2 separate regions of the Homo sapiens genome follow, and region 2 is reported to be linked to region 1. The links are microRNA targets in miRTarBase. Many come from high-throughput screens and were not tested one by one. Region 1 holds a microRNA gene; the other region holds the end of a gene's coding sequence. Distances are from middle to middle.
Evidence for each region. The annotated mature microRNA hsa-miR-4768-5p reads AUUCUCUCUGGAUCCCAUGGAU and lies in region 1 at 3,738-3,759, shown strand. An mRNA with a match to its seed (bases 2 to 7 or 8) in the 3' UTR can be bound and repressed. Matches are read on the target gene's strand: a 7mer-m8 pairs with bases 2 to 8, a 7mer-A1 pairs with bases 2 to 7 and ends in A, and an 8mer does both.

Region 2: the mRNA of CMC4 is a reported target of hsa-miR-4768-5p. Seed matches in the 3' UTR shown: 7mer-A1 at 5,643-5,649.

Annotation. Positions count from the first base shown.
Region 1 is chrX:17,422,152-17,433,454 of GRCh38, forward strand. It overlaps MIR4768 (microRNA 4768), which reads left to right and starts at 3,730; the gene lies at 3,730-3,803. All of the region lies in intron 1 of NHS (NHS actin remodeling regulator), which reads left to right.
Region 2 is chrX:155,055,982-155,066,765 of GRCh38, forward strand. CMC4 (C-X9-C motif containing 4) reads right to left here. Exons shown (of 3, transcript NM_001018024.3): 2 at 7,985-8,052; 3 at 5,641-6,010. The coding sequence starts at 8,042. The coding sequence ends at 5,862. FUNDC2 (FUN14 domain containing 2) reads left to right here. Exons shown (of 5, transcript NM_023934.4): 5 at 1-4,323. It overlaps MTCP1 (mature T cell proliferation 1), which reads right to left. Exons shown (of 5, transcript NM_001018025.4): 2 at 9,925-10,076; 3 at 9,638-9,808; 4 at 9,505-9,556; 5 at 8,053-9,418. The coding sequence starts at 10,029. The coding sequence ends at 9,509. Among named protein-coding and RNA genes, the nearest start is that of CMC4, 9.8 kb to the right of the region's middle. RefSeq lists enhancers at 1,287-1,788, 1,453-1,747.

The DNA.
Region 1 (11,303 bases):
CTTCATATAAATGGAATCGTACAATAATAATATGTATCTTTTGTGTTGGGTTCTTTTGATCAATATTATGCCTATGAGACTTCTAAAGTAAATAAACCTTATGCTTTTATTCACAGACTGGGGTAACAAAACTATCAGGATTCTACTTAGGTTCTAAAAAAGTGGAATTGCTAACTGAGTTGTTGTTAGTTGGGTTTGTCTGACTTTGTTTTGGCAACAGGAGTTGGTCCCAGTGATAGGGCAGCTAATGATTCAATCCATCAATCTATAGGTTTTTATCGAAAACCCTCTATATGCTTAGCATGTGTCTCTTCTCGATGGTTCTTTTCAAATCCAGGGTTTCCCACCCTCAGCACTACTGACATTTGGGGCTGGATCATTCTTTGCTGTGGAGCTGTCTGTGCACTGTAGGATGTTTAGCCACACCCCTGTTCTCCACTCACTGGGTACCAGTGGTATCTACTCCTCTTTTGTCCAGTTATGACACCAAAAATGTTTTCAGATATTGCCAATATCCCTGGTGAGGCAAAATTACCCTCAGTTGAGAGTCACTGTCATAAACCTACTGCCACTGCTTTCTACATTTTATTTCACAAACTTTTTTGGGTACTTTCTGATAAGAAGAACCTATGAGACACTTTGGACGAGTAGGGAAGGTGGGCTCCAAGTTCTTTATTTGTTATGTACTTGGTTGAGTGAAGCACACAGTTTTCATTTCTAGGGGTGGGTAATATTATGAAAAAAAGGTAGAAATTGGTAAGATTTGATGATAGCTACTGACAGGGTAACTGGGTCAAACTTCAAAGTGGCAATTCTGAAAATGCACTAGCAGTCTGAATCTCCAAGTGATTTTTAGACGTTTTGAAAAATCCAAGAAATTCTAAGACCACCACAGTTTGGAACCATGCCTTGAGTAATAGGCCTGGGATAGACATGAAATTCCTACACTGCATTTAATTAGGAGGTTTTGATCAGGGTTCCAACTGGCATTTGCAGCTGATGTTTGATTAAGAGAAAGTCCTGTCTCAAAATATGAGAAAACTTGAATAATAAAAGCACTGTGCCAATGGCTTTTCATGTATTTGTTTAGAACCTGCCTTGGTTCCAGGAAGGATTTAATGTGGATTTCTATCATTGCATGTGCTGTCTTCATCAATGGTTTAAAATATCAACCAGGGTGAAGATATAAGAGAGGAATATCGAATCATTGCTTAGAAGAAGACTTGAGCAGGCATCTCCTCCTCCTCCATCTAAGCTTCAAAAGAGGCCTCCCCTAACCAGACAGTCCAGTGAGATAATGAATTAATTAGAGACTTGGAAGGGTTAGCATGAGAGCCTTGTCTGTCTTGCCTCTGGCCCTCTGTCTGCTCGGCTAGATCCTGGTTAGGAGCTTTTGGCAGTCCTCAGGTTGGGGATGAGATACCTTGGCAGGCTTGAGTGGGCATCAAAGACACCAGGAAGGATCCCAGCCCAGTTTCTGGCAATTCTATCTGTCACTGGGTTTTATGCCTGTGTTCAAAATATTCCATTTCTCCATCTGTAAAATGGAGATAATCCTTCCTCACCTTGCAGGGATGTTGGGAGGATTAATTAGCTAGTGTTCCTCAAGTGCTTTGAAGATGAAAAGGCTTGTGGAAGTGCTAAGTATTAAGGCAAGGCAGCGAATGCCTGCTGGAAGTGCTCTTCCTTTCCTCATCCTCTTGTCAGCAGTTGTGTTTCTCTTGCCTTTTCTGCATATTTCACAGACCAAAGTGCTGGCATGGTAGGTAGGACAATGCATGGATCAGCACAGAACAAAGACAGTAATGCCTTATTTTATGCCTTGCTACTAACTTGGCTTATCAGTTGGCATGACCTCTGAAGATCTTTTTGCTCTGAATGTTTTAATCATCAAGTTCTGGTGGTTATCCAAGGTGATCCTAATCTACTTTGGGGTGGAGGGAGGAAGTGGTGTCAGGAGAGATCAAACCAGGCCACCTTGAGCTGAAAGCTCTGAAGGAGAAGGATTCCTTGAAATGGAGGTAATTTTTGAATTATAATAAGTGAGAAGACTGCAAGGGAGACAAGCTGAGGGACAAATGCTCTGTGCTTTTCTCCTCACTTTCACAAACAGGAGGAGAACTTCCACTGACCTAGCAGTAGTTTGCTCCTCCAGGCTGTCATGTCTTCTGATCATGTCTTTTATGAGGTGAATTTCTCCTCATGAAAGACTAGACTTTAAGGAGAGATTCTGTGCAGGTCCCTACAGTGTGGAGATGGATTGATTGGGCCTACAGATTGCAGCTAATCAATTCATCCTTTGCTTCCCAAAGGTTTATGCATTTGGGTGGAGTTCACAATGAGTGGTCTGGGTGCAGGGCCGTGTGGAGAAGCATGTCCACCGCTCTTGCCCCGGTGGCTTCTTTAGATAATCTTGCAATCTTCACAGGTTCTTTTCTAGGTATGTTATTGTTTGGAATAACTCCCTTGAGTTTGGAAGAAGAAAAGGAATAGTACCAGGTTTACTCAATCATTTGTTAGTTTGCTTGTTATCTTAAAAAATTCTATAAAATTCTTTTGAGAAGTTTCTCTGCTCATTGATCTTGAAAATCTCCTTGCTTTAGAGAATGGATGTGCTCCTCATATGCTAAGGATAAACCAGATTTTGGTAAATCAGGTTATCTTAGGGGTCCCAGGTGAGTTTGCCATTTTAACGATGCTTAGAGTGAATCCTTGTATAAGGGAAAGTATCTTGTATATTCTGTATCCTTTAGGAACTCACGTCTGTTGACTTTATCAGATGTTGGGGTGGTGGTGAGGCTAAAGACCAATAGGCGACATATGGCAGGATCTTCCCTCCAAGTGACCCTCTGGAAAGGGCTATACTTACTTAATTTTGGTGGAGCTCATCATAGGGTCAGGAAACCAGGGAGAAAGCTGAGCAACTGGTATTTATAGATCTTTCTCTTTAAATCAGGTTTGCTCATGATTTGTCTGGTCTTTATTCTTCTCCATGTCTGAAACTGAGTTCCTTGGATTCCCTTCTCTTCAAAGCCCTCTTGGCAACCTTCTGAGGAATGGCAGAGTTCATTCTGATCCACGTCCGGTGAGCGTAGCTCAACCGTGATGGAGCTTGACCTGTCAAATTCACAGAAAAATGTCCGTTACATATTCCAGCTGTTCCTTAAACATGCTCCCTAAGAGCTAGTTCCATTTGTTAGCTGTCAGAACGATGTGGAGGAATTGCTCCAGACCCTTGGATGTCATCAACCACTTTTGTTTATACACCAGTTATTTTCTCTATTAGCAAATCAATGTTTGGCAAAAAGAAAGCACAGGCTAAGAACTTTTCCTGATGAGTTGCTGCCCCAGCCTTGGAACTCTTCTCAGCCAAAAAAAAAAAAAAAAAAAAAAAAAAAAAAAAAAAAAAAAAAAAAAAAAGAAAGAAAGAAAGAAAGAAAGAAATTGAGGAGGAATTCAGTTTTACATGTTTTCCTTCCTGCTTACATGAACAGAGGAGGCCTACCTGAAGCTGAATCCAAGCACTGCCTTTGACGTTGGTAAAGATGGGGCTCTGAGCTCACATATCACCTTGGAAACTGGATCCTGTTACTGCTGGGAAAGGAATGCTTGGTTGCCAAAAGCATTAAGATAGGGAATGTGGATTCCACCTCTCAGTGCTCCTGCCTTGGATCAATTAGGTAGGATACTACCCAGAGATACAGACATGATGGACCAAGTAACTTCTCCAAACTTTGATTCTCTCTGGATCCCATGGATATGGGAACTGTGATGTCCAGGAGATCCAGAGAGAATCAGAGTTTCAGTGAGTGAAACCTAGAGTGTGTGCTGCTAGGATTTTCCTCATAAACCTGGGTGTTTTATTCTTGTGGGCCAGAAAGTTATTTCATTCCTAAACCCGTGATGTAGACTTCTCAGAAATTCCAGTGGTGTGGAGGATCCAGCTTCTATCAGCTCACAAGAGCTGATTGCACATATCTCTCCCCAACTGCTGTTCAGTGGCATCAAGTTGGTAGCTTGAAATCTGCCATGATGAGAGTATTTACACTATAGAAATTGGCAAATATGGCAAATAAGGGTCCCCACCACCCATGCTTGTGAAACATCTTCCAGCACACCAAGGAAATTATCCTAACACGTAACATCACTTATGGGGGCTGTTTAGCTTCAGGGGAGGAAATCCCCTTTGCTCTGATCTCATTGTGTGTACCTGCTTTGCATAGGCAGACTACCCCTTGTTCTCTCATCTATTAAACTCGACCTGAGAGAGAGCTTCATGAGATGGGTTGTGTGACAGGAGATCACTAGGGTAATGAGTCTGTTCCTTTCGCTGCTCAGCTATATGACAGGTTATTTTACCTCTCTAGGCCTCAGCTTCCTCTTCACTATAATAAAAGTAATTTAGATCATTAAATAATTGCTAAGTTTCCTTGTAGCTTCGACATTCTGCAATTTGATGAGTGCTTGGCTGCTGGAAAATGTCATGTGTTTCAAAGGCTTGGGGCACATGCACATCATTCACAGTGACCAGCTGAGCTCTCTCATTTTCTTTCTGGATCTTGGACTCCCAGTAATTCTACTTTTATCTGGACTTCTATCTTCAGCATGAATGAGCAGGGTGCCTCTAAGTGAGAAGCATAATTGATTAGTTCCTTCCATCTGGGGGTGTCAAAGCACTTTCAAGTCAGTAGTCAGTATCCATCATGGTTGCTCTGCAGGGAAGACTGCCTGAGAGTGCCTGTTTTGCAAGGGACATATCACAGTGGTGGACCAAGGACCCAGAATTATTGACTTGTCTTTTAATCAGAAAAGGGGCTACTTCCTGGTCTTAAAGAAGTTCCAGCTTTGAGATTAATCTGCTGTCTATAACCCCAGATCACTTGGCATGCTCGGCCTGGCTGACCTGCTGACAGAACTTGATATATTTCCCATCTCTCTGACATGGAGATAAACCTGAATAGGATTTTGCTAGTTCAGAGGATTTGGGGATACATGTTTAGGTAAAGTTTTCCTATAAAATTCCTTAAAAGAGGTGTGGTGTGGGTTTTTGTTGGGAATTGAGGCTACACTTAATGGAATGTGGAAGAGACCAAATCCACCTTTATGGGGTGCCTGGATGGAAAAGGTGTACTGATAGGAAGTTGGGACTGACCACAGACTTGGGCTGCTTTGTGATTTTGCTTACAGTCTTGCCAAGACCTAGCATCTGCCAAAATACGTGTCTCTGGGCCCTCTCTACCGAAATGTACACATTGACATGCACCAACTCATGCCGCTGTTGTTATGATTGTGTTTATGAAGCCATTTACTCTTGAATCAAGAACCTGAGTGACTTGCTGAGTGTTTGTAGGTTTATTGTCCACTCTGCCAGCTGACTGGGCTGTGTGTGTTCAATGGCTGAAGCCATGATTCCCACAGCTGAAGGTTTGGTCCATTGAGTCTGCCACCATAAAGCACAAGCTATGTGAAGGGCTGGAAAAGAAATAAATTCTTCTGGGATTAACTCCAAAGCAGAAGTACAGTTCTGTCTTGCACAGATAATAGAGGCTGGGTTCAAACTTCTTGGGGTCAGACTGCCAGCTGTGACCCACATTGGAGGTCTACCATCTTTTCTTGTTGGAATACTTCCTAAGAATATATTTTTTAAAAAATCAAGCACCCCTTGTGTATTTTACATTTGATATCTGAATTTTCTAATCGTAAGTTGAATTCATCACAAAAGTATATTTTCCAGCACATTGTGTATTCTCACAGCTCAAAGTCTGATGCACGGGTCAGCAACATCAGCATCCCCTGGCAGCTTGTTAGAAATGCAGAATCTTGGGTCTCTCTCCAGCCCCACTAAATCAGAATAAGCATTTTAATAAGATTCCCAGGTGATTCACATGCACATTTAAGTCTGAGGAGCACTGGTGTATATCATATACATGCTTTAAGTATATCTTCATTAAAACCTTTCAATTTATGAAAAAATTATTAGATCAGGGTACGTGACCTAACTGCAAAGTCATTTCTTATTGTCAAACCATCAGCCAAGCCAGATTAACTTTTAGTCAGTATAAAGAAAGGGGTTTCTTCATTGATTCAGGTGAATGTGTTAACATGTGTACTTGGCCAATCTTCATCCTTCTGAGTTCTGGTTTTAGGATAAGTAGGCAGCTGGCTGGCCAGATAGATATATAAGGCACAAAGCTGTGCTATGAATTTGTTGCCTGAATAAAATATGGCACTGTGGCCTTCAAATTTTTTTGAAATGTTCTTTCTTTGCCCTGGGAATTTTCCTTCTAAAGTGATGCTGACTCAAATGATACCTCGGTTTGGGGCTGGGGAGATTTTTACTCCTTAGGAAAATGCATCCTCATAAGATTGAGAATAGGTGGGCAATTTCCCTTTCTTTATTAAAGGAGGAGGAAGGCAGCTGTGAAAAAGGGAATATGGAGAAGCAGAGCTGCCACAGAGATGGCAGGTCAGCTTTGGGAGGCATGCATATGGAAGCAGAAAATATGGAAACTGAATCTCTTAAAGCTATCCATATACCTACATACTGCCAGAAAGTCTCTGGGGACCCCAGTGGTAGGTGAGCCCAAGTTTAAGAAAGTTGAGTTGGAGAATCAATTAATGCCCTTTTGGAACTTCCTGGTTTCCAGCCTTTTTATCTCCTTGAATGCACATGTCTCTCTCTCTCTCTCTTTCTCTCTCTGTGTGTGTGTGTTTATAAATAAGAGTCATTAAGCCCCAATTCACCACAACCAAAGCTTTTGCCTGTTCCCTCATCTCCTCTTGAATTCCAACTGCAATTAAATTTATCAAATATTTATTTAATCCAACTGCGCATCAGGCACTACACCAGGCATTGGTGATGTTGAGATGACCAATGGAGACAACAATAGTCATTGTTGATAACGAAGACGCACACACTTGTGGAATTCTATAGAGATTTTCAGAAGAAGGGATGGCAAGCAACTTCCAATGTTATCCTTGGAAATCAACTCCTTATTAGGGGGGAAGTTCCTAAAGAAAGGATAATGAAGTCTGCTAAAGAAAAGATGCATCTGCCTGTGTGTACTGGGGGATGTGTGTGTGTGTGTGTGTGTGTGTGTGTGTGTGCACACGTGCGCGCGCGCTATACAGATCAAACCATTGCAGACCTGCAATGTTTTCCAAGTGCTTTAATGTTTAATTCTCTTTGATTTGATCCACGGCGTCATCAAGTATTCCTGCGGGCAATTCCAAGGTGTCTGAGGACCCTTGCTGGGTATCAAAATCCAGTAAGACCTTTGGAGAAATTGAAGAAGGGGAACTTTATTGGTTTTTAGGCCAGTCTTATAATTTAATTCTGTTTTTTGTCTGAAACACACATGCACGGAATCTTTTATCGTCTGTTAGGCATGTGTCCTACCAATCACAAGACTTAAGATGAGAAAAATAAGCAAATGTTTGATGGAGAGAAAACAGCCGTTGGAATCCTGTGGCTGTTCCCACACTGGGGGGATCAGGCAAACCCAGGATCCATGCATTAGAAAAGAATGGTGCAGAGAGAGCTATTGTCCCCTTTGAGCTGTGGCCCATAGTAAATTGTTGACTCTGATCCTAGGGTCAGGTTATTGCTGAGTTGCTGTTAGCATTAATAATTATATAATGGCCTTCCCATTTTTCTACCCCATGTGGATCATTTTGGGTGTTTGTGGTGAGAATGTTCTCTAGGTGGCATCACGGAACTTCTCACCAGTGCTGTTTGGGGGACCCTTGGGCCCAGTCTCCTCCTTCCATGCCTGACATTGCAGCTTGACCTACAGCACTTGCTGCCTTTTCCCCCTCACTGTAACCACTTTGGTTAACTTGGCTGAAGGCTGCAAGCCTCATGAAAGAGGTTCATGGCTATGAACACCCAAAATGATCTCAGATTCAGATTATGCACATATTTTTCCTTCCTTCCTTCCTTCCTTCCTTCCTTCCTTCCTTCCTTTCCTCCATCCCTCCCTCCCTCCCTGCCTTCCTTCCTTCTTTCTCCTTCCTTCCCTTCTTCCTTCCCTTCTTTCCCTCCCCTCCCTCCCTTCCTTCCTTGCTTCCTTCCTTCCTTCCCTCCCTCCCTCCCTCCCCTCTTTCTTTTTCTTTCTTTCTTTCTTTCTTTCTTTCTTTCTTTCTTTCTTTCTTTCTTTCTTTCCTTTCTTTCTTTCTTTTTCTTCTCTTTCTTTCTTTCTTTTTCTTCTTTCTTTCTTTCCTTCTTTCTTTCTTTTTTCTTTCTTTCTCCTTTCTTTCTCCTTCCTTCCTTCCTTCCTTTCTTTCTCTCTCTCTCTTTCTTTCCTTATTTATTGGGTGCTAAACATTTATAGCGTAAAATGTTTATTTTAAAAAACATTTAAAAATAACAGCTTTATTAAGATATAGTTCACCCATTTAAAGCGTACAGTTTAGTGGTTTTTAGTGTATTCACACAGTTGTGTAGCCATTACTACATCCATTTGTAGTCACTCCCCATTTACTCCTCCCCGCAGCCTCTGACAACCACCGATGTACTTTTTGTTTTCAAAGATTTGCCTATTCTGGACATTTCATATAAATGCAGTCACACAATATGTGATCCTTGGTGTCTGACTTCTTTCCCTTAGCATGATGTTTTCAAGGTTCATTTATGTTGTAGCATGTATCAGTATTTCATTCCTTTTTATGGATTAAATACATTCCATTCTATGGATATACTACATTTTATTTGTCCATTTATTCATTGATGGACATTTGAGCTGTTCCCACCTTTTTGCTATTATGAATAGTGATGCTATGAATATTTGTGTGCAAGTCTTTGTGTGGACATATGTTCTCATTTCTTCTCTTATATACCTAAGGAGTGGAATTTCTGGGTCATATGATAACTCCATGTTTAACCCTTGGAGGAATAGATTATGCATTTTTGACTTGTTATTGTCCCATGAGGTCTGAAGTTAGGAAAGGTAGGGAGAATAACTTCTTATGGGGTAGACATCAATGGATCTCAGCAGTGCCCAGGCTGGCAGTGCCATTTTTATGAGTGTAACAAGTTTATCTTCTTCAGCCCTTTGAGGCCTCATTTTCCAGAGACTACTGGCCCTCCTGGGTCTGTGACCCTGGCCAGAACTAGGATTTTTTATTTTTAACCTCTCATAAGGGATTCCTACGAAATATGACCCACTAGAGTGCTTGGTGGACTGTCAACTCTGTATCTGTGGGGAACAAAATCCAGCTGTTCAGCTTGGTTAGCTGCTGTCTCATCTGGAACTGCCTTTCCTAGGTTTATTTCCCCAAACAATGGCCCAAGTTGTAGGCTTGTGGTTGCCAGCCCCCTTTAATTTGGTCCTTAGTTGCATAGTCTGTTATTTGTGCTGTGACTGGCTGTGATTGAAGGGGTATGCTTTTTCCTAAACTCAACAGTGTAGTAAGATGCTTGGTGGACTCCAATAATTCATCTATCCCATGGAGAATGTGAGGAGTGTGTGTAGTGATGGTGAGGGGCATGGCACACTGAGGGGAAAGTACCTTTAAAACAGAATACTGAATTTAATATCAGATCAGGCTGATGTTAAACCTCTGCTTTCCATATGAGAACACTTTCCCAGGGGATTTAATTGTAAAATGACAAAAGGGTCTTAGTGCAATTTCACTGACAAATGGCCTTCTGGTGTGGATTTCCATGACGCAAGCAGAGCCAACTAAGAGCTTCGTCACTTATGTTCCTGGAGCACATAGAACAATTTTCTCCCATTTTGTTGAACTTACTTGAACTTGGGGTAGAATACCTCCCTGGACTTATACTACCAGCAGGTTTAGGCTCCCAGTTTCATTTATGTGTCTTCATCCCATGTATAGCAGTGGCTCCCACCATTGGCAAAGACTGAACTTGAAATGCCTTGCTCTGGAATTCAAGACCATCCGTGATTTAGAGTATAGTGGATAAGGATGACAGCTATGAAGCTACACTACCCAGGGGGTAAACACAGCTTTGTGTGACCCTGGACAAACAATTTAACTTTTCTAATCTGTGGAATAGAAATAAGAATACTACCTACCTCATGTGGTTGTTGGGAGGATTAAATAGGTTGACAAATGTAATATATTAGAAAGGTGCTTAGTCAGTGCTTAGCTGTGTTTGTTGTTATTCTTATCCTATGTTCTGTCCACTCATGGCTGTTGGCCCTGCTCAGATACCATCTCTTCTATGAAGCTGTGCCTGAGTGTGTCTTCCTTACTGCTTTGTACACAGTACCAAACATAGTGCCTAGCATGTAATAGATACTCAATAAATATTTGTTGAATGAACAATGAATGAATATTTGTTGAATGAATGCATTTTCCCACTTGGGAGCAATCCACTCTTCCTCTATGCTTTTATATCACTTTGCCTCTACCTCGTTTTATGGAGTTTTCTACATTTAACCTTTATTTTAGCTAATTATGCTTTAGATGCAACCCCTTCTCCAGAAGGTCAGCCCTTGGATAATAGTGCCTGGGTCAATTGTTTTGGTATTTCCTGTTAGGACTTGCATGGAGGGCAATAAATATTTGGTAAATAATTCATCCCCTTTGGAAACAATGTTCTTAAACCATTAAATTGCTAGGTGTTTTTTTTTTTTAATTAACCGAACACAAACACAGAGACATATGCATGCAGAGACAGTATCCCTCTAACAATTTCATGACATGTTGCCTTCTTTTTTGTTTTCCTAAAGGAAGTGATAAAGGTAAAAGTTGAAGAGGTGGGCGACAGTGGGAGCCAGAGACTCAAAATAAATAAAAATGTGAGTTCAGTTCAAAGAACAGGTTGATATTAAAGTTTTATTGGAGTTCAACAATTTCAGAAAATACATAGGTTTCATTCTTCTTTGAATTCCTTCAAATGTTATTTTTGCTCCCCCTTTTTTTTTTGAGACGGAGTCTCGCTCTGTTGCCCAGGCTGGAGTTCAGTGGCGCAATCTCGGCTCACTGCAAGCTCTCCCTCCCAGGTTCACGCCATTCTCCTGCCTCAGCCTCCCGAGTAGCTGGGACTACAGGCGCCCGCCACCACGCCCGGCTACTTTTTTTTTTTTTTTTTTTTTTTTTTGTATTTTTAGTAGAGACGGGGTTTCACCATGTTAGCCAGGATGGTCTTGATCTCCTGACATTGTGATCTGCCCACCTCGGCCTCCCATAGTGCTCCCCCTTTTAAATAAAAGCTCACAAAGCCCCTTGGTTGTCTGAAAAATAATGGAATATTTGACTTGAGTTCTGGGATTGGAAGCTAGTCACTGTTGCTGTGCTTCTTTGGTTCATAGCTGGAAATGCTGTGGTTGTCT
Region 2 (10,784 bases), 140 Mb from region 1:
TGGATGTGTGGAACTTTACAGAAACCACCTATTTGCGTTTTTCTCCTTACATTTAAGGAAACATAAGCCATTTTGCTTGCAATATGTATGAATCATCTCAAAACCATAATGGTATGAGCCTCTTTGCTGCATATTTTGCTATAAGAACTTATTTTTTTTCACTTTTTATTATGGACGCTTTCAGGAATATATAAAAGTAGAGAATATAGTACAATAATCCCCCTGTGTATCTATCACTCACTCACAACAATCATCAAATTATAGCTCTGCTGGTTTTTACCAGTTATTGTGAAACAAATATCAAAATGTCATTTTATCATATTTCAGTATGTATCTCTAAAAGGTAAGAATTATTTCTAAAAATCATAAATACCTCATCATATCAGACATTAACAGTAATTACATAATATCCAAAATCTGATCAGTGTTCAAAATTTCCTCAAGTGTTTTATATTTAGTTTGTTTGAATCAAAATTCATGCAAGGTTCACATCGTATTTGCATGATTTGGATAAGTCTCTTAACCTTATAGATCCTCCTCTATTTTTTTTTTTTTGCTTGCTATATATTTATATCTCTATATATATTGATATAGACATATGTAGTGACACTGAGTCATCTGTTTCCTGCTTCCCCACACTCTGCCTCTCCTGACATCTGGGTCTCTGGGTTATGCCATATATGGTGATAGTGGCTGCAGCCACTTTACCTGTGTGACTTACCCACAGCAATGGGATGGTAACAGCAAAGCTAACCAAAGTGCTCTGTGCCCCTTTGGGTTGCATGTGGGGAGACTGGCCACCCAATGCCTCTCCAGTGGGGTAGGGGTTGTCTTTTGGTGCATCTGTTTTTCCTGTGATTATTGGTGAGGGCAGCAAAGATTAGCAGGTGGTTGTAAACTACCTTGAGTAGGTTGTAATAAATAGTCTGGCCTCAGACTGTATTCTGATTGTCTGAATTAAGATCTGTAGGTAGGTCCCTCCTGAAGTTTTTTCCCAGCTGGCTGCCTCTACGACTGTGAGGGTCATGGTTGAGGTCAGTATTGCAGGTTGGCCTCATCCTGCTAGTATGAGAACGGCTGTGAGTTCTGCCCACGGTGTGAGGCCACTGTGACCACTTGGGATTGTGCAGAGCTGGCATGGAGGTTGAACACGCACAGCTGCACACCTTGTTTTCAGTTTAGCTGAACCATCGGTGAAGGAGGCTCAGGCATTTGGGGTTACCTGTGAATCAAGGCCCTATTGTGCCAGCAGTTTTGTTTCAGGTGGTGAAGTGGGAGTTAAGGTTTCCCCCAAAAGAACAGCTGCCACTCCTCCATGCAAAACCGAGATGATTCAAGGACCAGGCAGCTCCACCTTTCAGTGCACTACTTTCATTTGACTGGAGAGGCCTGCTTAGCTAGGCACGTATTTTCTCCAGTAGCAGAGTCCAATGACGCTCTGGACTTCCTAATTAGTGGTGGTGGGGCGGAAGTTTTTCCTTGGGAAGAGCGTTGTCGCTGTATATGGTCCGCAGAAACTTGACTTGGAATGTGTTCGGGGTTTCATCGCCCCCTTGTGGCGGCGACGTGGTAACACCGCACTCAAGGCTTCCAACTTGTCAACCAATAGGATGGCATCTACGTAGTGAAGGCTTCCCTTCCCTTGTCCTGCAGCGTGCTGGACAGTGTCCCGGCTCAGGGACCCCTTCTGTCCCCTTCCTGGCTACTATGGGTCGGCCCTGCGTCCTCACCACTTTGAGCCACCCTTTGACCCAGCGTCTCTCCCGCAATGGGACCTGGTGGGATGGGGACTTGGAGCATGCTACAGGAGAGGTAGAACTTTTGAGTCTCTTCTTCCCAAGGTTCTCCCCAGAGTCGGAGAGCAGAGACGGATCCAGGGGCACTTTCTGGCCGCTGCCTGCTCGGGCTCAACAGATGGAGTCCAATGTTTCAGTCTCCCCCAAGAATGTGTATCCTCATTGCTGACACGGGAGCTGGGTGCGGGGAGAGATGTGGTGGTGGGGACCCTTGCCTGAGCAGCCCATTGTCATGAGTGTTATTGCCATTGTGATAATATGTTAGCATGACTCTCCTCCCAAATGGCCGCTTGTTTGTTGCAATCTCCCGCCACTCAGCCTCCAGACATTCATTAACAGGACAGTGGGGTTCTTGACTCCCCTACCACTGGGGTGACAGTCCTTGCTACTGGATCTGGGCAGTTACTGTCTCATGGATGCTGGCAGAAGACGATTCAAGTTGGCGGACTAGATTCTACAAGGAATGATCTCTTGCATAATTCTAGCCAACATGCTCTTGGGGTGGGTGCTTCTGGTTTTGGAAAGCAAAGTTACTGTGTAGTTAACAACTATTGTGGTAAGAATAGTCTCTCCATCATTCTTTTGTTTCACGGTTGTCAGAAAGATGGGCATAACTAATGGTTGGGCTCTTATTTGGAACCTCTACTTTTGTACAGTTTGGGAATCTCTGCTTGAAAAGATGGTATACTGATGGATTTGAAATTTCTGAGTATCATCAATGTTTCATGATGATCTCAATTTCTTCTCAGAGGGAAGCTCACAGCCAGTTTTGGACCCCAGAGAAAAATGTGGCTGCTGCCCTCTACTCCCTCTACCAAATTATCAGCTTCATTTCTTTGTCATGAAATCTAGTATGATTTCTCAGAAATCAGGCCCAGAACTAAAATACATTTTCTGCCCAATTTTCTAAGAGGTCACACTAACATCTGAGTAATTGGGCAGAAAACCTATTTTAGTTCTGAGCCTGATTTTTCTAGAAGTCATATGGTATAGCTTATATTTCCGATGCTTGCATTCTTTTTAAGGGGTCATGAATCTTAATACTTTTTTTTTTAAAAGAAAAGTGTCGCACTTTTTCACATTTTTATAAAGCTTTAAAGTCAGTTTACTGACTTTTCAAAAGTGTCTACCTTTTTAAATTTTAAAATGGTAAGAAATGACATTCCTGAGAGCAGTGGCTTTCATCCTTGCTTGCACTTGGGAATCACCTGTGAAATTTTAAAAACTACTAATGCCTGGCTCTCATCCTAGAGATTCTGATTTCACTGGTCTGGAGTGCTGTTCAGGCATCCTGAGGTTTTAAAGTGTCTTAGCTTTTTCTAATGAGCAGCAGAGACTGAGAACCACTGAAGTACACAGTTGGAAGCTGGTGCTGAAAAAATTAAGAGTTTTGCTGTTAACTCCTTAAGAGGGCTTTAAAGCCTTTTATATTAAGTGCCATACAACTTCAGATGCCTTCTGAATACTGAACACAAGTGTAATATTATAGTTCATTAAATGTCTTAGGAATCGTGTGGAGTGAATGCAAGGAAAGGAGTGACAAGATATCACCCCACAAATGACTTACCCATTACGAAGGGAAAACTACCTTTCTAGCTAAAAGGTCTGTCAGTCACTAACCAAGTGATTAAACTTAGCATCACTAATAGCCAACTTAACAAAGTTTTTTTTTTTTTTTGGTTTCTAAAATGGGAGATCATAGTTTTCACCTTCCTAGAGTTCTTTGCTTAAGACTGAGATTCAGTGTTACTCTTGGTCCCTAACAATAAGAAGCACTCAGTAAATGTTAAGCCTTCTATGATGGCTATTTTATTTTTTTGTATGTCATAATAATACCTAAGAATAAGAAGAGTTAAATTAATGTCTTCAAATGGATTTGTTGACTTAAACTGACACAATCCTTTAAAAGAAGGAACTGATTTGAACCTTTCAAAACTGAAAGAAAGTCGTATACTGATACAGTTTGGAGCCACCGAATGTCATGTTGAACCGTATTCCCTAATGGAGGTGGATCCTGGTGAGAGGTGATTGGATCGTGGGGGCCATCCCCTCTTGGTACTTCACTCATGATAGTGAGTTCTCATGAGATCTGGCACTTCACCCCTCACTCTCTCTTGCTCCTGCTTTGGCCATGTGGAGTGCTCACTCCCCTTTTGCTTTCTGCCATGGCTGTAAGTTTCCTGAGGCGTCCCCAGAAGCCCATCAGATACCAGTGCCATGCTTCCTGTACAGCCCATGGAACTGTGAGCCAACTAAACCTCTTTTATTTATAAATTACCGAGTCTCAGGCACTTTTTATAGCAATGCAACAATGGACTAATACATATACTTTAGCATAAAAACATTTAAAAGAGTCTGAAACTGGAGTAGTTAACTCAGTAAAAATAACTTGGCAATAAAACACAGAAAAACAATCTATTTGATCATGTAGTGATTCCTAATGTAAATCCTAGTACAACTGTCAACTGATAATTTTAAATGTAATTTAGATTTGTAGATGGTGTAACATTAAAGTTGTATGATGTTTTATTGTGTTATTATTAACACAAGACGTCATTTAAATTTCATGGGGATTTAGCTCTGTCACTCTGGTTTGTGGACCAAACGTCTCTAAGGCAGCATTTCTTTAAGTCGCTCTGGAGAGCATTCACACACAGAGATGCTGTCTGCAAAACAGGTTCACTTAGGTTTTTTGAAAGCTCTGAAGTCTGACAGGAAATTAACCTGTGTACTTGTATGCAACCTAGCATTCCCCAAACTTACCTGACCAGAGAAGCCTTTTTTTTTTCTTCCGGTTACAGCAATTCCTAGAAACACTTTGAGTAATGCTGCTTTAAAGAAAACAGTTGGTCTCAAATAATCATGGTATTTTAACATCAGGGACCTAGCAGAAATTGTTCCTGCTTTTAGTCATCTTTTTCTTTTTTAGAGGACAGCCTTTGGTGGTTCAAGCATCCATTTGAGGAAAGCAAATGGCCTGTTGCATGCTGCCTCCTCCTACTTCATAAAGTGACTGACAGCTGTCAACAGGCTTCATTCAGCAGCTTTGTATTAATGTTGTCTGGATCCTCTGTAACAGGTTTTTATTATCAGGATATAAAGAATAGATAAACCAACTAAGTTTGAATTATCTTGCTGCCTACCTGACTTCCAATGAAAATTTTTTCTTCAGTTCCTTCATGATAAATTAAGGATCATTAAGCATTACAAGAATCATTTCTATGCCTTTCCTACCTGGTTAGTCGCTGCAGTGGGGATGCAAAAGCAGAAAGAAATGCTCTTACTGGCATCTGGAAAGACACTTTTTGCTCTGCATTTTTGGAAGTACAAAAGGTAATGAGTTAGTTTAAAGGAAACTTTGAATTAGTTTAGCATGTAATCTATAAAAGGTATCAAAATTGGCTCACGCCTGTAATCCCAGCACTTTGGGAGGCCGAGGCGGGCAGATCACGAGGTCAGGAGTTCAAGACCAGCCTGACCAACATGGTGAAACCCCGTCTACTAAGAACACAAAAATTAGCCAGGCGTGGTGGTGCATGCCTATAATCCCAGCTACTTGGGAGGCTGAGGCAGAATTGCTTGAACCCGGCAGGCAGAGGTTGCGGTGGGCCGAGATCGCACCATTGCACTGTAGCCTGGATGACAGAGTGAGACTCCATCTCAAAAAAAAAAAAAAAAAAAAAAAAAAGGGCGTCAAAATTGTGATGCTGGAAGTGAGTCCTTTCACCTAACATACCTCATATGACTTAAATTTGATGAATGGCACTAGTGGCTTGAACTTCAAGAGAATTCATTAATACCCTATATCTAATAGTCTTAAAATACATTTAGTACAAAACCCAAATTTTTCTCTTAAACAGGTTTATTTTAGCAGCTCAGTATATTACATTCTACATATTTGTCTTTTAATGTGTTTATATTTCTGCCTGTTCTGCATAGATGGCATATTCATTAACTTTTGTAGCTGACTTTTTCATTTGCTATTTGCTGCTACCTGGCCTGAAGAGTCAGGAGGATAAAAAAAATTCATTTGGTGGAAACATGGAGCAGCACTTCAGAAGAACTTTACTTTGATGCAGACTTCCGTGTTAGGTTTTCTTCCTCTTCTTTTTCAAATCCTGAACAGACGACAGATCTTCCCTTGGGATACTGAGCACAACACTTACGCAGTTCTTGGATGACAGCCTGACACTTTGATTCCATGTAGCTGTTGGCTGAAAAACATACAGGCAGACTCTAGTCATGATCTCATAGGACTAAGGTACAGGGAGGTTTAGATCAGTGCTTCCCACCCCTTTTCACTTTCAGTACCTATGGAACTGGAAGAAAGAAGATATACCAAAGTCCACTGAATTCTTTCTAATTTAGAGACCTGTCGACAGGTTCGTTAGGGAAAGTATGATTTACAAAGTGGTTGAAAGCTATTTTAATATATAATTTCCTTTAAGGTTAATAGCATGTATGCACCTTTTTCTAGGACATTGGTTTTTAACATCATTTTTATTACTGGTCACTAATTTGATGAATTAGGAAAATGCACATACACCACACATTATTTTGCATACAGTTTAAGCTGATTGTTGGACCTCCCCTACTAAGGCTGTGCATCAGGAATTGGCAAACTGCAGCCTTAGGGTCAAATTCAGCCGGTTTTTACAGCTGGGAGCTAAAAATGGATTTTAATTTTTAAAGGGTTGTAAACACACAACACATACACAATATATACAACAAAGGCCTTTGGCCTCCAAAGCCTAAAATATTACTTGTTTGGCCTTTTTCATAAAACATTTGCAGATCCCTACTATACATAAACACTAAGTTAAGGAGGACCTGACCTAAAGACTCTAGGTCAGCTGCAGTTAATGAGTCCCCCAGTACTAAAATGGAGTACATGGTAGTTAGCTCAGGATAGGAAAGACAATTCTGATTAGAAAGGCAGTATAGCAAGGTGGGTAACAGTCCAGATTTGGAGCTAGACCAAGGGCGGGGTTGGCGGGGGGTGTTCAAATTCCCACCATACCTCTTACTAGCTATGTGACCCTAGTCAAATTACATAACTTGTGTGTCTGTTTTCCCCTTTATGAAATGGGGGTCATAGTAGCATCTACCTCATGGATGAAAGGCTTAATACGTATAAAGTCCTTATAACGGTGCTTGTCATCTTTTAGTCTTTCCAGTTCTTAATCCTCCCACACTGCCAAGGGGGTGTCACCAGCTCTTTTTAACTTATTTTTTTCCCTTAGCTATGGGTTATTTCAAACAAGGTAAGGTTTTATTTGGGAGAAGGAATTAAATGCAAAAAACTTTTTCCTTTTCCTTAAAGTTGGAGGGAAGAAGTTTGACTAAAATGGCATTATTATACATCCAGATTTTAATCTAAAAGATTTTATAAAATATTGCTAACATCAAAAAATGAAAAGTCCAAGAATGAAAGCTAAAAGTCCAAGGAGATACACAAACAAAGGATTTCTTTGGTGGTGAATCTTTGGGGGAACTCTGAACATTTTTCCTTCATACCTTTCTATATTTTCATGACCTTCCATCTCCATCTATTACTTTACTAGTGAGGAAAACTTATTAAAATTTTTTCAAATTCAGATAGCCTTATAGCTTTTTCTATTTGCTCTTCTGGCAACAGTCATTCACTGATTAGAAAACTAAAATCCTCTAACATTTGGTCAAACTTAGCAGCTGGACAAATGGACAAATCACCTCAAATATGCTTTAGTCGAGATTCACTTCTGCCTTTAAGAGTTAGTTGATGACTTTGGCAGCCTGAATTCCAATTGTTATTTCAACCGCACCTCTTCCAGATTGCTTTTAAAAAGTGAATTGTCAGCTGCAGTGAAGTATAACCAACCAATTTAAAACTAGCCTTTTAGTAAAAACAAACAACAACAACAAAAAACCCTTTTTTTCCTAGCCCTAGCCCTAGGAAGTCTGAATTGTTCTAGGTAAGTGTTTAAAGATCTCCAGGTGATGCTAATCACCTGGAGTGAAAACCCCTAGCTTTGATCACATTACTTTTTATTTTCTGCATCTTTGATGATACAATGAAGAGAATCTTCAGGATAATTACATATACGTTACATTCTTAAAAAAGAGTTAATACAGATAAAAGAATAATTGGTCTCTTATAGTTAGTTCACAGTGGAAAAATATTTTTAAAGCATTTTACAATATACTACCTTGTAAACATTTCTGTATCTCACAGGCTTGCTTCTGGCACGGATCCTTCTGCGGCATATCCAGAAAACTAAAACAAGAAAAATGATTTTTATTTTTCTTTTTTCCATAAAGACTTTAAAGCCCCTCTACGTGGAATTTTCTTCTGAGACAAGCAGTATATGCCCTTACAATTGCTGGAAAATAATTACACTAAAAATACTCTTCCCAAACATAGGATGAATCAACTGTATTTTTATAATATCCATTTCATTAGGCTTGGAAGATATAAATAGCTTTACATGGAAAAAAAACCTTGAATTCAATCAACTCTTTTTGAATACTGTAAACCAACGTTAGGCTAGAGGAGCCGACGGCGCAGCCTGGCTCTATCATTCGCAGAAGAAACCCTTGATAAATGATTAAACTCCTTGAGCTTTTTTTATTACTCATATATAAAATGGGAATCATACCTACCTCAAAGCATTGACAGGAGGATTAAATGTGATAAAGTATATAAAGTACATACAATAGTGCCTGGAAAGGACTCCAATACATGGTAGCTATTATTCCCAAGACTTTTTTTTTTAAAGTAAAACCTTACTTTTAATGTATATAAACTGTTATAACTACTTTAACTCAGGAAATTCTTTACAAGTAGTAAATGTTTTCCTAGGAATCAGCAATATTTGGTGTTATTACTTCCTGAGAAAGGTGCCAGTTAAGCAGCTAAAATGGTTTTTCTTGAAGTTCTTATAGAAACCAGCTTATTTAAAATATCTGTAATCAGAGAATGAATTCAAGAGCCCACAATTTTGATCAGCAACTTCCAGTAATTTGAAGACACGATTTCAGATAGAAAAAAAGGCCCACAAGCCTTTGTAGCTAATTTCATCAATGCATATCTCTTTTCAGAGCCCTCTAAATACTCAGCAGATCCAAATTAGGTCAGTACTGGGATGGGAAACACTGGAGCAAAACCTAGGATATTTACAGGATGGGAGAAGGAAAGGCAGGTGAATTGCTGCAGGGCAAATAAGCGACAAATAGATGTTGATGCTGCTAGGAGCTGCTCTCTTCTCTCTAAATCAGTACCAAGTCCTTGGTGATCAGGGCATCTGTTCTGTAGAAGGTGCTGACTTTTGTGGGATTCATCAGATCCCAGGTCCAGCCGATGATGTCCATTAAGGGTTCTATGGCAATTTCCAAAGGAGTCAATTTCAAGTTACGGATCCTGACTAAGTGCTTTTGTTGACTTGCTTTCTGCCTACGTAACCTCTCTCTGCAGTTTCACTTGCAGTATTCTTCATGACCCTTGCTAAACTTCTGTTTCTTGAGCAGTTTTTCAACCCACTCCCTCCCCCCAGGCCCAAGGGTGGGTGCACTGCAGTAGTGGATGAAGTGATTGCCAAATACTGAACAGAACAAAGGAGCATATCTTCGTAGAATCCCAGCACCTGGAAAAAAAAATCATTAAAATCACCACAACTGAATAGAGCCAAAACAAAGAGGGGGAGGACAGAGGAGAAATAGAAATACATACCAGGTTAGTCATCAGGCAAAAGCTTAAGCAACAGCTCCTGTACTCCCCTGACCTGTCAGAAAAAGAAAAGTTTATGGAGTACTCTGTTACGAGAGTCCCAGTACAATGGAAAATAATTAAGCAACATGTGTACCATTAAATGATGCTGTATCTGCCACAAGCGAGAGTTGTTATCCATGTAGCGCTCCTCCGGGTAGAGTTGCCACATGAGAGGTAGCTGGGAGGTAAGAAGGTGACTTGGCCTAGCTGCGTCACCTAAGGGAACCTGAATTTGCTGGACTCGTGCCCTTAGGAAACTCGTCTCCTAATGGAAAGGAATGATCAAAAATAAAACCAAAGACTTCAGAATATTGAGACTGGAATAGAAACCAAGTTACTTGAAAGCAAAATCAAAGAAATAAGCAAAATGTAAACAGTTACCTCTTCCACGACGGCCACCCACGTGCGCTGGTATTCGTCGCGGTAGATACCCTCTTGGTGAACCCAGAGGTGATCGGGTGGAGCCCCCACATCCTCTCCTGCCATTCTGGGCTTTGGGTTCCAATTCTAGCCCTGCTTTTCTCCACCTAAGCCTGCAGCACCCGCGCACAGGACACAGGTGTGACTTTTTGGGTTTGAATGAACTCACCAGTAAGCAAGGTGATCTGGTACTAGCAACCACTAACCAGAACCAAACCTCATATGTCTATTTGCACAACCTAAATAGAACCAAGGACATCTGAAGCTTTCTGCAAGACAACTAAAGTGACACTCAGGCAGAGCCTCAGGTAGTGCTGCTGACTGCAAAGCGCTCAAGAATTTGGCTAGGTGAGGAGTTCTGTGGAAATGTAGGACTAGCACTACAGGAAGCTGGGCAGTGGTCTCACACATACTGCATTCACAAGCAGTGTCTGGCAAAATGTAGTTAGCAATAGAATATGCAAAGAGCGTGCCTAAAGACACACTTATTTTGGCAGGAAGGCAGTATAACAGACACATGCATGTCATATTCCCCAGGTAAAAGCCACTTCCAAGCAGTTTCCATTTTAAAAGGTAAGATTCTGAAGGACATATATGCATGTCTTTCAGAGTTGAAATTAAAAGTTTGTTTTAAGGGCAAATGATCTATTTATCAGTTTACTAAGAAAGTTTACAAATAGCGGATGGGCATTTCTAGAAGGGGATTTTCTTGTTAGGAAAAGTAAGCTAGCTTCATGGAATTTCTGAGCTGCAAGAGACTTTGGGGATCATGCTGATTTGGAGCTGAGTGAGTGCAAATGAAAGTTATCCATCTAGGTCCT